Regions from separate parts of the Homo sapiens genome. Here region 1 is linked to region 2. Evidence: fine-mapped expression QTL. A gene starts in region 2. The other region holds a variant in brackets. All regions are shown on one strand. Distances are from middle to middle.

Region 1 (8,330 bases), 22 kb after region 2:
GTCATTAAGGATGGGAACTTTATTAGAGCAGTGTGGATCTGTTCAACAAGGCCCTGGTGCACCACGCTACAAACCACTGTCGAAATGAGGTTGCTAAGAGTCACCTTGTGGAGGGAGAGCTGCAGGTCCCATCTCATCCAGAGCTGCTTTGATCTGAGGTGGGGCCCTGGAGATGAACGAAAGAAAGGTGGGGAGTGCTGTGTATTTTTTCCCCACAAATCCACCAGGGCTCATTGTCAGATCCTGGGCTTTCCTTTCCACATCATTTTTAGGGACTGAGGCCAGTTTTGCATGATTCAGTGACCAGGCATGTGGCCTGACTGTAGGTGGCAGGTGGGGATGGTGCAAGCTGACAGGTTGAGTGGCCATGGACCCTGTTCAGGTAATCTTGGGGGAAGGTGATAGGAGAGAAGTGGGTGTGGGAAAGGGATGAGAATTTGATAAAGCCAGGTTACCAACAGGGAACCTCTGAGCAGGCCAGGCAGGGAGGATCTGGGAACAATCGAGTGGAAGAGTGGTGATGTGGATCTGGAGGCCAGCTGTGCTGATCCTTTGTCCAAGGTGAAGTGATTGCCCAGGAACTGGGGAGAAGAGGGAAGGTCCTTGGACAGGGCTGACATCCTAGGTGGGGAGATTGAAGCCACCCTGGGAAAATAGTACTTCAAACCCACCCCTGTTTCTTCAATACCTCTTTCCTCGCTGTTATCAAGACTGGATTGAGGCCCCAGAAAAAATCCAGTTACACCTGGGTGAGAGAAACTGTGAACCTTATCAGCTAATAATCCCCGAAGGTAAGTTTAGCTCCTTAAGTGTTTTTCCAGTAGTGATCAATACTCCAGAGCTTTTCTAGACAGAATCATTCAGGGGCAGAATGTATTTTCCTAAGATGGCCACAATAAAAAGTTTGATGGAGTCAGAGTGACCTCTACAGTCCTGCTGTTGGGCTGTGGGGTCTTTGTCCCCTCCCCTTGAACTAAGGTAAGTCTTCTGCATTTGCATTTGAAAATGAATGTGGCAGATTCTAGAGTGCCTCAGTACCCTTTCTCTCCATAATGTTCCTTCTGCATAGCGTTTTATGGTTCTTCACTCTCTCAGTTTCAGGCAGGAAGACTCATCCTGAGCTGAGCTGCTTTTCTTGAAGTTGTGCAAGAACGTCCTGTTGGCTGGGGCAAATTCAGTATTTCTTTTCCTGGCCACTGTGCTGGAGCGTGAGGAAAGACTCTCCACCCTCACTCCCAGATCCTGCAGGAGGCGTGAGAGCGGATGGAGATGGTGAGGATGTCTATTAATATGGTGTTTCCTGCAAAACGGTGCCCATCTCAACCATGGGTTGTCAACCATCCTCGGTGTCTACAACTGCAATTTACCTTTGAGGGCCCATGAACTCTGATTACCTGAAAGTCCTTAGGCCAGAAAGAGAAACCCCTGTCCCCCACCTCTCACTTTCACCTATTTCTAGACCTTTTCTTACAGCAATGCCTTGGCCCTCAGGAAGCATCAGATCTCAAACTGCAGGGTCTGGGGCTGAAGCTGATGCTGGCATGGGTGACTCAGAGTTCCTCTATTAGTTCAAATATGTAATATCTTTTAGAGCCTAGGACTCAGGCTGGAGGCAATTCCTTGGTGCCAGTTGGTTAATACTTTATGAATAGTGGTGGGGGAGGGAATGCCTTGGACTATTAATGTCCCCATGGATCTGGATCCTGGAGAACTTCCAGTGTCCTGGATGGAATGTTCTGCTTGGCTCATCTTGCCCAGAGAAGAGCCAGGATATGAGAAGATGGGAGAGGGAAGGGGGAGGTGTGAAACGTGCTGGTGCTTCCTGTCCTCGTGGTGTGATGGCTGCCCAGGCTGCTCCTTCGAGGCAGGACAGGATTCCCATGGGAGATATGAGGACCATGGTGATTTCCAGGCACCAGTTATGTCCCAGAGCATCGTGTGCCTGTGCAGTGGGGTTACTGATAGTCCAGGCATCAGTTCATATTGTCCTTTATGGCAGATCCTGCACAAGGGGGTTCTCTGTCTCTGGACCCACTCTGTCAGCATGGACATCCTTTTTCTTTTTCCCTGGTAAGGACATCAGAAAGAAAGTTACCCCTCCAGTGTTTGGAGTCTTGGAATCCTTGGCCTGCCTGCAGGCCTCTGAATCCTCAGTGTGTTAGCCCAAGGTCACCTTAGGTAAAGGAACATTTCTCCTGGTCTTCCAACACCCTGGAAAGGGAGGCTCTTCAAGAATAGGAAATTCTTCCTAGTATCTAACCTTGGCCTGCAACTATGCCATACATTTAATTGTAGAAGGTATGGAAAGTTAGGACTGTGGTGGACCCAGTTAAATCACTGGACAGAAGCCATGAGGCAGAGCCAGAACCAGCTTCTGGACTCCCTGCATGGAGCTTTCTACTATCCCAGGTTGTTGGGTCCCTTCTCAGTGGCCAAAGATGCTATTTTATGAGCCTTGAGGACATGACACTAAGTGAAAAAAGCCTGGCCAAAGGGCCACATAGTGTATAGTTCTATTTATATGAAATGTCCAGGAAAGACAAAAGCATAGAGGCAGAAAGCAGACTAGTGCTGTGGGAGGAATGGGGGATTTGGGAGGTGATGGCTAAGGGGTTATGGGGTTTTGGGGGAGGTAATAGAAATGTTTTAAAATTGGTTGTGAAGGTGGATGCCCAACTCTGCGAATACACTAAAAGGCATCGAATTGTATACTTTAAATAGGTGAATTGTATGCTATGTGAATTATATCTCAATAAAGGTATTTTTTCCCTGCTGTTTTCCTGGCTTCCACTTTCTTATCACAAATCCTGGGGACTCTTGGGGCAGGGGCCAGGGGCCAGGGGCCAGGGCAATACCCTCCCACAGCAGATGGGGCCTTCAGGTGGAGTGCAGGCTCAGCTGTTCCCTCTTGCCCTTCTCTCTGCTGGAGAGAATGAACAGGAATCAGCATTGCCTGTCCCCATGCTTAGAGGCTGGACCCAGACCCTGCCTTCTGGGACACACCCACCATAGTGAGGGCTCAGTGACTCCTCCTTGCTGACTCCCTTTCTCCACCTTGGGACAAGCCAGCTCCGACAGCCTGGCATGGAAATGACCACGGAGCCCTGGTCAGTCGGGTAGTTCTTTCAGGGGCAGGGCATCCTGCGGCAGAGGAAGGGACTGAGCTGTATGTAGAGCTTAGAACCAGGTCTGATCTTGGAGTTTCCCCTTCCTTCCTCTTCTCAAGAAGGCAACCCTATCAGCCACTGGCCAGGGAGTAGCTTATCTTAGGGAGCCATTTTGTAGAAATCTCAGGCAAGAAGGGGTTCGGAGTCATTTAGACTCCCACTCAACAATGTTTGTCGATACCAGCTATGTTTCAGGAAGAGTTGTGTTCTGGGAACCACTGACATGCCCAGTGTTGACCCAGCATCCTCCTTTTAAGGGCTCAGAATTCAGTGGGGAAGTAAATGTAAGTAGTTCTCTGATTGGGGTAAGCAATGGAGATTGAAGAAAGGATGTTAATCAGCCTGAGTATTGGGGCAATCAGGGAAGGCTTTCTGGAGCAAGCACACCTTGAAGACTGAGTATGAGATAGCCACATGAAGGGGGGAGGCTGGGTGGGAAATCATGGAAAGTGTGTTCCAGGCAGAGGGAATACAATGTACAAAGGTCTGCAGATGGATGTGAGAGAACAGTTCATTTGGAGAACCACATAAGAGACTTCAAGTAGTTGAGTCTGGTTGTAAACCAAGATATGAGCTAGAGAAGGCCAAGAGATGAGGTGGGAGAGGTAGGAAGGGGCAGACCATCTGAAGCCTAAATAGGAGGAGGTCCAAGACCCCCTCCTCCCCAGGAACTCCACTTCCTCCACCTACCTCCTGCACCTGCAGGACTCCTACCTGAGCAGGGGCACCAGTGCCAGGCAGAGAAGAGAGTAACCAGCATCAGGAGCAGCGAGACAGGCACCACCACCAGCAGCACATCTTTGTAGGAGGCCTTCCCTGGTGCTGAACATGGAGGGGTGGGGTTAGAGGTGGACTTGATGCTTCATAAGCCCTCAACCACTGACTGCTGGCCCTTAGCATACCTGCCTCATGATGACAGCTATCCCAGGGCGTGACTGTGGCCAAGTCCCAGCTGACAGGGTTGGAGACAATGCAGGAATAGGCCACATCTCTGTCTCCTGGTCCCAGGGAAATGCTCAGCACCTGTCCGTCTGTGAAGAGGCTGTGTGGTTCCATACCAAAGTCCATGGTTGTCTCCCGTCGCCAGCTATAGGTTATTTCGCTGATGTTGGGGGCCCAACAGGACAAGAAAACCTGGCAGGTCTTGGAGGGCTGAGCATCCCTTTCTACAGCAATGAACACTTGTACCACGGGCCTGGGCACTGCATCTGGGAAAGAAAAGTACAGCTGGTATGGGTCTCAGGGA[T/G]GCTGGGCAGGGCCCACATCTCTGGCTCTGGGATCTACCCAGGGTTAGATGCCACCTCTGGCTAGGCCTCTCTTGTTCCAAAATCTTGTCTGGCTTTCCACTGCCCACAGGACAGAAGCTGAATTCCTTAGCTTGATATTCAAAACCTTTCAGGAAACGATTCATGCCCATCTCTCCAGCTGTACCTCCTGCTGCTTCTCCCTGCTCATCCTAATTAATTTGCAGTTTTCCCAAACATGTCATGCTCTTGAATATCTTTCATGCTTTCACATAATTCATCTGCGCACACAGATGCCTTTCCCTTCTTGTCCTCCTAGAAAACTTCTACCCATCCTTCAAGGCCCAGCTTGAACACATTGCTTAATGCCTTGACTGTGAAGCCTTCCCAGGCATGGCTCTGAGCTCTCCAAGCACTCTATCTCTTTTTGTAGTATTTCTCTCACAATATGTCAGTCAGTCAACAAGAGATGACAAGCATTTATTAAGTCAGGCAAGAAAACAAACACATTCCTAGCCTTCTGGAGCTTACAGTTTGGTGAGAAAGACAAATACAAAATGATTATGAATAATTAATTAAATAATTATGAGGGTGCAAAATGCTGTGAAGGAGGGGCCCAGAGGTGGGGGCTCTGTCTTGTTAGCTTAGTAAACTTAGCTCTGTAGTGCTGGCAAATAGTGGGTGCTCGATATCTGGTCACTGAACAAACTGATATCCTGGTGTCCTAGCCATGGATTCCCCTTTCTATACAGGTTGATGAGTAAATCCTGAGTCTCAGTGGAAATGAGGCCAGTGGGAGAGCATTCTGGTGACAACAGGAGGGCTCAGTCTCTGACAGCATTCCAAAGTCAAGCAGAGAAAAACCTCGTTAATGCCAGTTCAGTCTGGTGGGATTTGTGATATGAAAGAGAAATGATTTGCTGGGCACACTAATAGTATAAACAAAGATTACAGGGGGGATATTTACATCACTTAAGAGGACAAGCTGCTTCCAAACACGATCAAGCACAGTAGAAACACCCATTGACATTTCTAGTAACTGATCTGCTAATTCAAATCGTTCTTATCTATTGTCAAAGCAGAACTCCTAAGGACGGCTGCTTGGCAGCTTCGTGCAATTAGTTCTAATCACGCTATGTATTTGGAAGCAATAAAACAGCAATTTCCTTAAAATCTGTAATTCAGCTGCTGAGAACAAGGCATTTTAGAGCTTAGTGGTGTGGGTGCTGCATGTATTATCACATTCAATGTCCTCATTTCACATGTGCGGCAGCTGAGACTCAGATCAGAGGAGGGGCTCCAGGGCTGCCTGTATGGTGGGGTAGGTTATTCACTACACAAGGACATTGGGCTAAGGGGGGTCACAGGGTAACAGGTGGCAGGGGGTGGGGGGTGCTGAAATCCAGCCAGCACTCTGCTTGCCAAGATGAGGCTCAGGGCTGCGTGCATCCAGAAAGGCACCTTGCAATTGCATCGGCACCCTGAGTGGCTCGCCCAAGGACAGCCAGTTAGCTGTCTCGGGGGGATTCAAGACATCTCCCCAATTTGCTTACAATCTTTATCTCCCTCATGGCTACCCTCTTCCCAGCTGCTACCTCTGCTTTCCATTCTTAAATCTGGACTCCCCTCTCTTCCACTCTATCTAAATTTCTAAGGTTTTACTGAAACAGTGATTTAGGGTCACCCATGCCTCTTTTCTAGCCCATTAGGTAGATAAATGAGAGCTGAAAGCCACTCTTTCTTGACCAGAAGACAAATGATGAAGGTGGTGGAGGTGGCTGTGGTGGAGGTGGAGGTGGAGTTGTTGGGAAACAAGGCCCACGCAGCCCCCAGTCCATGCAGCCAACCGAGGTGCTGAATGTAGCTGCGCGAATGGCTCTGCAGACCCATGCGAAGCAGAAGTCGCACCCAGCTGGGCCTGCCAACCCACGGAATTATGAGAAGTAAACATCGTTGTTGTTTTCAGTCAGTAAGTTTTGGGATGGTTTGTTTTGCAATGATGAATGACTGAGAGAACCCATGAATCATATATAGTTAAGATCTCTCTAAGAAGCCCTTTTAAGAAATGTGTAAATTCTATACTTTTAATTACAGTTTCATTATAATTTGATTTTTAAATAAACCCATTATGTCATAGTTTAGTATGGTACATCATTTTTTTTCCTTTAGACTAATGACACATAGTCTACACAGACTACATAGACTACATAGACTAGTGGCACATCTTATAGTCTATGATGATCCTTTAGAACTGAGGAAGCACAGGCCAGGCTCTGTCCTGGATGCCACTGCAAATGCCACTGCATTTCATCCTGTGGGTACTCTACATGGTAATATTACAATGCCCATTTACAAAGGAGAAAGGTGAAGGCCAGGGAGGCTAAGCATTGTGTCCAAGGCCACTGAGCCAAGAAAAGACTGAGCTAGAGTTCAGGCAAGCACTGTGAAATGGCAAAGCCTGGCTGCTGCAGCCAGGAGGAATTTTCTTAGACGTGACTGCCAGGGAGCAGCTGTTCCCTGAGTCGGCAACATGGTCAGAGACCAGAGCTTTCTGGAACCCAGCTCTCCCTGGCTGCTATGACTCAGGATGCTCGTCTGGTGCTTTGTGGGGGAAGAGGGCCAGGCAGCCAGTGTCAGACACACTCACCGTACACCTTGAGCTGGAGGGTCTGGGTCCAGGGCTGGCCCCTTGTGTCCACCATCAACACGGAGAAGTTGCCGCTGTCTCCAGACTCCAGCGGCCCGAGCTCCAGGCTGAGGTTGCTGTGTAGCTGGGCTCGGCCCAGGAAGCGGGAATGGTACAGAGTCTCCAGGGAGCCTCGGAAAAACGTGGCCAGGAGCTCTTCTGAAGGCCAGAGAGATCGCCAGATAGCCTCACGGACTTGGAAGCCAGGGGGACGCGCTGCCACCAGCAGCACCGAGCCCCCGACTTTGCTCAGCACTTGGGCACCAGTAACTGTAATGGGAAGTAGGGCTGAAAGAACAGAGCCCCTGGTCACTCTGCCTGCCCCACACTCCTCATCCTTCTTTGCATGCATCTGAGCTGCTATAGGGTGAATTGGGGCCCCTCCACTGACATTCCCTCCACTCAAGTTGAGGTTGCACTGTGCTAGGTACCAGGGATAAAACATATGGAAGATAACCCCAGTCTCTGCATTCATGGAACTTACAGAGGAAGCCAGACATTCAAGAAATCAATAAAAATGAATTCTGTTAAATACCATGAAGGGAAAAATGAGATGCCCTGGGAGAACACAGGTAGGGTGACAGGGGATCTCACCCAGCCTTGATGGGCTCAGAAAACAAATTGTTAAGCTGAGCCTTGAAGAGGAATGGGAATCAGCCAGGCCAAGCCGAGGGCGGCCTGGAGCAGGATAGGGAAGTGTCACCGGCAGAGGGCACAGTACTGACAAAGGCCTGGAGGGGGAGAGTTGGTGCCCAGGGGAACTGAGAGTAGTTCTCTGTGTGAGGAGTAGGAAATTACACTGCAGAGTTGGTAGGAGTCAGATCATGCAGAGACCTGAAAGCAATACTGGAGTTTGGGCTTTATCTGTAGAGCAATGGGGCGTCTCAGGTAGGTTTTAAGCAGGAGCGTAACAGGATTAGATGCATGGTTAGAAAGATCACTCCAGCAGGGATGTGGAGAATGCACTGGAGGTGGGCAGGACTTAGGCTGTTCATGTTAGTCCAGTGGAGAAGTGACGGCAACTTGAATTGAGGAAGGGAGCAACCGGGATGGGAAGAAGTGGGAGGAATTGAGAAACACGAAGATGGTGTGTAATCAGTAGGATTTGGTAATAGATTAGCTCTGGGGAGTGAAGGAGAAAAAGGAGTCGAGGACGGCTCCCAGGTCCTTGGGATCCACTGGATGTTATTCTCTGTGATCCAGAACAGGAGGAGAAACAGACAGGGGGTGAGA
Region 2 (8,330 bases):
TATATAAGCAGACACGCTACGTGGTCATGTACATGAATATCCTCACAGTACACATAAGCAGCCACAAATACTCATAAGCATACAATGTACATACGTGTACATATTCATACATGCATACACATAATCATATATACATACAAGCATACATAACAGCTACATATATAACAGCTATATGTATAGCTGTTATATGCCTGTGACAATTCATGCACACACACATACACACCCACTACGAGCAGCCCTCCTTTTTATGAAAGCACTGCTGACCTCTGGGTGCCGTGGACAGAGAATATGAAGGGAAGGGCTGACACTGACTCCTCCTGAAGCCCTGCTTCTGCTCCTACCACCCCATCTTCTCTGCCCTCCCCCTAGCACTGCTGTCTGCTGTGCGGATCAACGGGGATGGACAGGAGGTCCTGTACCTGGCAGAAGGTGATAATGTGAGGCTGGGCTGCCCCTACGTCCTGGACCCTGAGGACTATGGTCCCAATGGGCTGGACATCGAGTGGATGCAGGTCAACTCAGACCCCGCCCACCACCGAGAGAACGTGGTGAGTGCTGGGCACAGGGGTCTCCTTCCTCTAGGCTTCATGATGTCTACCTGTTGGACAGCCAACATCCCAAAGGGAGAAGACTGACCTTGAACCTCCCCCAAGGCCTTTCAGGGAATGAGGCAATGGGGATGAGAGCTCTGCAATTGTGAATTAAGCTAGCCAGTCAGTCTACCTCCTCCCATCCCATTCTAAAAGGAAGATAAGTTGTAGTCTTTGCCTTCAAAAAGTTCCCAGTCTGACCATATATCTTTCCAAGTGCTTGATCTCACCTGATCTCACCAGTTCTGTAAGAGGTCAGTGGCTCAGGCATCATTATTCTCATTTTTTCAGCTGAGAAAAGAGTCTCAGAGAAGTTCAGTGAATTGCCCAAAGCAGCCAATCCACATGGCCCTTCTTGGCTCTGCCTGTTTCACCACCTGTTTTCCTCTCCTCTTCACAGTTCCTTAGTTACCAGGACAAGAGGATCAACCATGGCAGCCTTCCCCATCTGCAGCAGAGGGTCCGCTTTGCAGCCTCAGACCCAAGCCAGTACGATGCCTCCATCAACCTCATGAACCTGCAGGTATCTGATACAGCCACTTATGAGTGCCGGGTGAAGAAGACCACCATGGCCACCCGGAAGGTCATTGTCACTGTCCAAGGTATGGCCAGACTCCTCTAAGCTCCTCTCCCCCTGGCTTAAGAGCCAAGGGCAGCTTGGCCACTTTGAGCCTGGCTCTGTCTCTTGGCTGGGCCCTGGCTTACAATTGTCTGCCTCCTTGCAGCACGACCTGCAGTGCCCATGTGCTGGACAGAGGGCCACATGACATATGGCAACGATGTGGTGCTGAAGTGCTATGCCAGTGGGGGCTCCCAGCCCCTCTCCTACAAGTGGGCCAAGATCAGTGGGCACCATTACCCCTATCGAGCTGGGTCTTACACCTCCCAGCACAGCTACCACTCAGAGCTGTCCTACCAGGAGTCCTTCCACAGCTCCATAAACCAAGGTGAGAGGGCCCTGGATGAGGGCAGTCGGGGGTGAGTGGAAGATCAGGGACTCTGGGACCTGTTGGGGTTTCCTTGGGTTATCAGTGCCATCAAATCAAACCTGGAATCCCTGTGGGAGACCCTCCCTCTGGGCCTGCCCCAGCAGCTGCTATTTTTTTTTTTTTTTTTGAGACAGAGTTTCGCTCTTGTTGCCCAAGCTGGAGGGCAATGGCATGATCTCGGCTCACTGCAACCTCTGCCTCCCGGGTTCAAGCGATTCTCCTGCCTCTGCCTCCCGAGTAGCTGGGATTACAGGCATGCACCACCGCACCTGGCTAATTTTTTGTATTTTTAGTAGAAACGGGGTTTTACCATGTTAGCCAGGCTGGTCTCAAACTCCTGACCTCAGGCGATCCGCCCGCCTTGGCCTCCCAAAGCGCTAGGATTACAGGCGTGAGCCACCGTGCCTGGCCCAGCAGCTGCTATTGAGAGCAGATGATAAGGCAAATGTGGAGAGTCAGTCAAAAGTACTATGGCGAATTTGGAGGGAGCCTGGTCTCAGACAGAGCTGGGCTTGAATCCTGGCTGGGACACTGACTGGCTCCAAGTTTAAGGCAAGTGGCTTACCCTCCCTGTGCCTTAATTTCTTCATATATGGAAAGGGAATACTAACATATACCTTTCATGGGCATGCAAGGATTAAATGGGGGAGGTGTGTAAAGCTCCTAGTACATAGAGAAGCTGAAAATATTCAGTCAAACAAAGAATAATAGAGCTAGGAGGGACCTTAGAGTTCCTCTTCCCCTGGCTTCTCCTGTCCTCACTGTACAAAGGAGGAGACCAAGGCTCAGAGAGCGTACATATTTCCCTAAGGTCAGAGTGAATTAATGGTGTCCCTGTCTTGCTGCTGGGAGAGAGGTCCTTTCTTGCATCTCTTTCACAGCAGGGGGAAGGTGACTCACCTGGAGAGTGGAGTGTGTGTGTGTGTGTGTGGGTGTGGGTGTACACACATGCATAAGCCTTCCCTTCTTCTAGAGTGGGTGTCCCATCCCCCACCCCACAGGGACTGAGGTTGGGGTGGGAGCTCTCAGAGACCAGGCCTCTCTCCACTTCACTTTCAGGCCTGAACAATGGGGACCTGGTGTTGAAGGATATCTCCAGAGCAGATGATGGGCTGTATCAGTGCACAGTGGCCAACAACGTGGGCTACAGTGTTTGTGTGGTGGAGGTGAAGGTCTCAGGTAGGTGCAGCAGTCTTGAGGGCTGGGTGGTTGGGAGGGTTGAACTGGAGGAGGCTGGGCTCTGGTTTGGAGCCTCAGCTGCTTCTGCCTTTCCACTGCCATCCATTTGCCAGTGGGGGCTCCCAGCCCCTTTCCTACAAGTGGGCCAAGATCAGTGGGTACGATCTTGACCCTATTGAGCTGGGTCAAGCTCGCCCAGCACAGCTTCCACTCTGAGCTCTAGAGCCCAGAGCAGCTGGAAGCCCTGGGAGAAGCATGCTGACACGAGGGGTTAACTTGCATCTCCCCATATCTTCCCCACTGGGTGTTCCAGGGCTAAGAGACCCCCTGGGTCCCTCTCCCTCTTTCCCATTAACCCCTGACCTGGCACCTCCTGGTGCTGTTCCCTCAGGCACCTGCCAGGCTGTGAGAAAGCCTGACCTGCCTCCACTTCTCTCCACAGACTCCCGGCGTATAGGCGTGATCATCGGCATCGTCCTGGGCTCTCTGCTCGCGCTGGGCTGCCTGGCCGTAGGCATCTGGGGGCTCGTCTGCTGCTGCTGCGGGGGCTCCGGGGCTGGCGGCGCCCGCGGTGCCTTCGGCTACGGCAACGGCGGCGGGGTCGGCGGAGGGGCCTGCGGCGACTTGGCTAGTGAGATCAGGTAAAACCTGATGCATGCTGCATGCTGCTGTGCGGCAGGGAACCGGCGCCCTGCCCACCTCACTCCTGCCTGCCACCGGCCGGCTGGGCCCCCCACCCCAACCCTGCCCGCCATCGCCACGGAGTGCTGGGACTGCGGCATGTCGACCTGCCACCCAACTCATGGCTTTCCCCTCCCCCTGCCACCCCAGTCTTCACCTCTGCTCCCTGCCTTCCATTTCCCTCCTGCCTACGCACCTGTCTGTCTTGTCTAGACTGTAAGCTCCTGGAGGGCAGGGCCTATGTTTTTTCACGTTTCCCCTGTACTGCGCCGGTAAGAACTCTGACATTATTATTTAAGAAGAGCTAATAATAAGAATAGTGCTAATAACTTATATTAGAAGCAAACTAGAAATAAAAATAGAACAAGTCTAGTAGTGCTAATGATTGCAATGCCTCGGGGATGGAGGGAAAGATGGAGAAGACTGAGGGGCAGGAGGTGAGAAAGAGAGAGATTGCTCGAGCAAGGTCAGGATTAGCTAAGGAAAGAAGAAGAGGAAAAGCACCTTCTTCTGGGCCTGCGAAACATCAGAAAGGGATTGCAGGGGCCTGGAGGGGGCTGCCTGCAGGGCTCTCCAGATACGCGTGGACAAGCCCTGTCTGGAGGATGGGGATGCTGGCTCCGGGACCGCTGCAGGGTCGCCGACCCAGGAAGGGTCACAAAGGACAGTAGGTCGAGGCCGAGGGAGAGAGACGAGGGCAGGTGGAGGGAGGCGCGGGAGACAAGAGGTTGCCAAGAGCCCCCGGCTCTGCCCAGGCCGTGCCCACGCCCCGCTGCGGAGCAGCCCGCTCACCCGCCCGCCTGTTGTTTTCCACAGAGAGGACGCCGTGGCGCCCGGGTGCAAGGCCAGCGGGCGCGGCAGCCGCGTCACCCACCTCCTGGGGTACCCGACGCAGAACGTCAGCCGCTCCCTGCGCCGCAAGTACGCGCCTCCCCCCTGCGGCGGCCCCGAGGACGTGGCCCTGGCGCCCTGCACCGCCGCCGCCGCCTGCGAAGCGGGCCCCTCCCCGGTCTACGTCAAGGTCAAGAGCGCGGAGCCGGCTGACTGCGCCGAGGGGCCGGTGCAGTGCAAGAACGGCCTCTTGGTGTGAGCGCGCGCGCCGGGCCGGGCTGCGCCCCAGCCAGGAGGAGGGCGCGGGGCTCTCTGTCTGCAGCTGGGGACACGTCGGGGCTGGGGACGACCTCGCTCGCCCCAGGCTGCCAGGCGGCTGGGGGTGAAGGCATTTCCCTAAGGAAATGCGTAGGGAGGCAGAGCCTCCTCCCCAAAAGTGGGAAGGGGCGGGCGAGGGCGGAGGAAGGCGATCCTGAGCCTTCTCCGCACCCCCGGGACCGAAGGCTTGGGGGAGAGGGAGGGAGGAGGAGGCTGAGTGTCCTAGAGCGGCTGAGGCCGGAGGCCTGGTGTCCCCAGCCTAAGCAGAGGGCCCCGGGGGCCGGGTGGGTGGGGGTCTGTCTGGACGAATTGTTCTGTGTGTGAGGTCTGAGCTCTGAGGCAGCAGTGTTAGCACAATAAAGAAACATTGAGACGTGAGTCCGAAGTGGCTGTCCGCGTTCCACGGAGGTTGGGCACGGGGTGGCGAACCCTGCCCAGGGCCGGGGAGGGTTGCTTCTGTCGCTCGCCTCGACCACGCCCCCTCTCCTCCCTCCTGCTTAGATCCCTGGCAGTCAGAGCTGGAAGGGGCCATCCAGGGCAACTCCTCTGAACAACATACAAAGTGCAGATAAAAGGAAAACAAAGACAAAAAGAATTAGCTCAGAATATCTACGACCGTAAAATAAACTGAGGAACCGACAAAGTGCAATACACTTGCCATTTCTAAATATTCAAAGTTTTCACATGTCAAGATTTTCTATTGAGAATAATGTGCTCTGAAGGTCTAGGGAGTCTTTGTATGTTGCTGAAAGCTAAAAGGAAACCAGTCCTTGGAGCACAGAAGGCACAGGCATCCGGTGAGACAGAAACAAGGACATGTGAAAATAAGACTACAACCTCTTATATTAAAAAACTAAGTGCCACAGTTCTAGGGTGCTGGGTGAAGTGCAGGAAGGAGGGGGAATAATATTTATATAGCATATATTATGGAACTCGGAGAGTATGGTAAATCCCTTCACCTAGATGCTGCTGGTGTTTTAGAACAATTATTTTTGTGGTTCTTTTTTTTTTTTCATTTGTCTGCAGTTGGTCAACTTGTGCAGAGCCCATTCTGCAGGAGATGTTTGAGAAATACCAAGTGAATGAGTGTGGCAGCATTACTTTATGCTAGAAAAAAAAAGTTTTTAGATATTTTACAGTTACTGCCTTATGATGGAATATTCTGTGGTGAGAATCTAGGCCTTTCTGAGATCCAGCTCCACGTTCTTACACCCTGAAGTAGTCAGCCACTCCTAGATAGGGATTAATTGAGCTATTTAGTATTTACCAGCACTTGTTTTGTTAAACACCTTGTCATGATATTTACAATGTATTTTGGGGGATGTTTTAGTCATTTTTGGTTCAAAAGTGGAAATCAATAAGCACTGTTTTTGTTAATAGGCGCAAGACGTCCTCTCTTGTTTAGTGAGATGGGGAGTGCTTAATTGAAGAGTAATGTTTGAGATAAAGTTCCAAGGATATATTTGCTAAGCAAACAGTAAGTAAAGTGGGCAGTGTTATAGATGTTCCTTTGTTGATAAAGGGACCAGGTGGTCACACAGCAAGGAGGGGGATGCAGACAAGTAGACAAGCTCTACTAATCCTTCTTTGTTCAACATCATCTCTGTTGGGCATTGGAATCTACTTTGCTAATGCAATGCCCACTTGCCTATAATTTAAGAATTTCTAATATGGAATAGAAATGATTAATAGGAGAAGCTTGGCTGGATTAATTTCCTGTGCTGAGAAAGATTAAACTTAAAAAAAAACAGTTAGGTCCATCCTAAATGCCCAAGATTTAAGAAGGAACCTCATAGTTCAACTGGGTATTTGATGAATGTGAATGATTTTGTATTTGATGAGCTGATGAGGACAGTATAGTGATGCAGAGGGTAGGTGCTTGTACATCTGAATTGTCTGGGCTGTTTCTTATTTTATATGTAATTTATTTGTATTTAAAGAGTTCATTTTATGTTAGATTATTTGTGCTTTGGTAGCAAAAATATATTTGAAAGGGTAAGTTCCTGAAATCAGCAGTTTCATGTCTGCTAGGAGACAAGTATCAGGAAAAGTAGTGTGGGTTCTATCATTTCCATGCTACAACTTGGATGGTGTTACCTTACCACTTTGGTCCCTTGTTTCAGGGATGTTAGAACTTAGCTTAGACCTTCCTCAGAATCCTTTTGGACTTTGTGTTTCATTTGTTTGGCCTGCCTTGATTTTATTTGGTCATCCTTCTTGATTCTTTCATATTATTTGTTTACACTTAACTCTGGAATATTTTGGTGGTTGTTTTCAATGTACTGTAGGTCTTTAAATTGGTTTATAATGAATTATTGAGGAGAATAGCAAGTTGTTGACATTATATCTGTCTGTAGTAACATTAGAATATTTCCATTTCAATTTGTTGGGCAATTTGCTTGTGGAAATATAAGATGTTATATTTAGTTCTATCAAAACCAGGATCTCAATATTATTCTTTTGGCAGGTTGCTGCGTGTGTGTGTGTGTGTGTGTGTGTGTGTATGTGTGTCTGTCTGTCTGTCTGTCTGTCTTTGATTTTTTTCCTTCATATTTTCCCCTTAATTCGGTGTCGGTCAATACTGTTGCTGTTTCACATCCATTGTCACATAAAACTAGTCATCTCATTCTCCCAGGCCCCCTGTCCTTGGGAAGGGATGTGCACTCTGCAGGTATTAGTGATTTTATATAGCTGCATGAGTTGCTGGGAAAGGCCTTGGCTGGATTTATAATGAGCTGTGTTTACTGAGCATTATGAAGTAAAGTTCAATATGATTACTCTGAAGTCTGACCTAAAAAAAATCCTACTCCTTCACTATACAGATAGGGAAACTGAGGCCCCTCAGGCTGGACTTTAAATCCCCAATCTTACTTTTCCATTTTATTCTAGAAGGTCAGTTGAGAGGAAACACGGCTCTGTCATGGATGACCTCTAAATGATCCCTGACCATTCTTAGCATCCTTCTTTCTCTTCCCCTCATTGACCTAATCTTGACTTCTTTTATCTCTTTCAGATGTATGCCTTCTTTCTTAATAGCCAGGAAGTGTTTTAGAGTCATACTCTCTGGTGTAGAAAGACCTTCAAGGCCAACTAACCCAGCTCCCCCTTTTGGTGGGAAGGGGATTGGCATTTATTGAGCACCTATTAAGTGTTAGGTGCTTTTTGATTTTTTGTCTTATTTATTCCTTACTTTAGTCCTATGAGGTTGTGTATTATCCCCATTATACAGATGAATAAACTGAGGCTCAGAGGGATTAGGTATCTTGACCAAGGCAACAAAGATAATAAAGATAATTCAGGATTTGATCTAGGCATGTTTGATTCCAGGACAGCAGGCTGTTTCTCTGGCATTTGAATTCCTTCTATAGCATTCCTGACAAAGGGTATGTAACGTCTTCTTGACAACCTCCAATGGCAGCTCACTACCTTCCGAGGCAGGCCACTTGGCCTCTGACTGTCAATATTCAACAGAACATTTCTCTGAACCCGGTTTTTGTCCCCATATAGCTTTTATCCCTTGATCCAAGTTCTACTCTTAGGGACCCCAGAGCATTGTATTTCTAATTCAGCTGCCTCTAGTGGACAAAGTGGTTGCACTCCATACAGGATGGCTGCAACAGGGACACAACTGGACACTTGTCTGGTCTAGTTGGTAGGAGGTGTTCAGAAGAGCACAGTACTTCAAGGTCACTTCGTTCTACTTTCCTTTCCCCAGCTGCTTGCTTGTTGAGAGCCCAGCCTC

The links.
Region 1: its variant is fine-mapped to the expression of SNHG28 in lung (TOPMed, PIP 0.95).

Annotation. Positions count from the first base shown.
Region 1 is chr1:159,828,921-159,837,250 of GRCh38, reverse strand. SLAMF8 (SLAM family member 8) reads right to left here. Exons shown (of 5, transcript NM_020125.3): 2 at 7,059-7,385; 3 at 4,070-4,375; 4 at 3,882-3,989; 5 at 1-2,067. The coding sequence ends at 1,991. SNHG28 (small nucleolar RNA host gene 28) reads left to right here. Exons shown (of 5, transcript NR_147125.1): 5 at 1,096-2,773. Among named protein-coding and RNA genes, the nearest start is that of SLAMF8, 6.2 kb to the right of the region's middle. The variant T/G (reference allele first, on the strand shown) is at 4,414.
Region 2 is chr1:159,850,952-159,859,281 of GRCh38, reverse strand. It overlaps SNHG28 (small nucleolar RNA host gene 28), which reads left to right and starts at 4,245. Exons shown (of 5, transcript NR_147125.1): 1 at 4,245-4,525. It overlaps VSIG8 (V-set and immunoglobulin domain containing 8), which reads left to right. Exons shown (of 7, transcript NM_001013661.1): 2 at 370-548; 3 at 991-1,192; 4 at 1,316-1,537; 5 at 2,639-2,758; 6 at 3,201-3,399; 7 at 4,256-4,966. The coding sequence ends at 4,529. It overlaps LOC124900450 (small nucleolar RNA SNORD64), which reads left to right and starts at 7,310; the gene lies at 7,310-7,376. LOC107985216 (a long non-coding RNA gene) reads right to left here and starts at 4,435. Exons shown (of 2, transcript XR_001738263.2): 1 at 4,314-4,435. RefSeq lists a silencer at 4,223-4,632.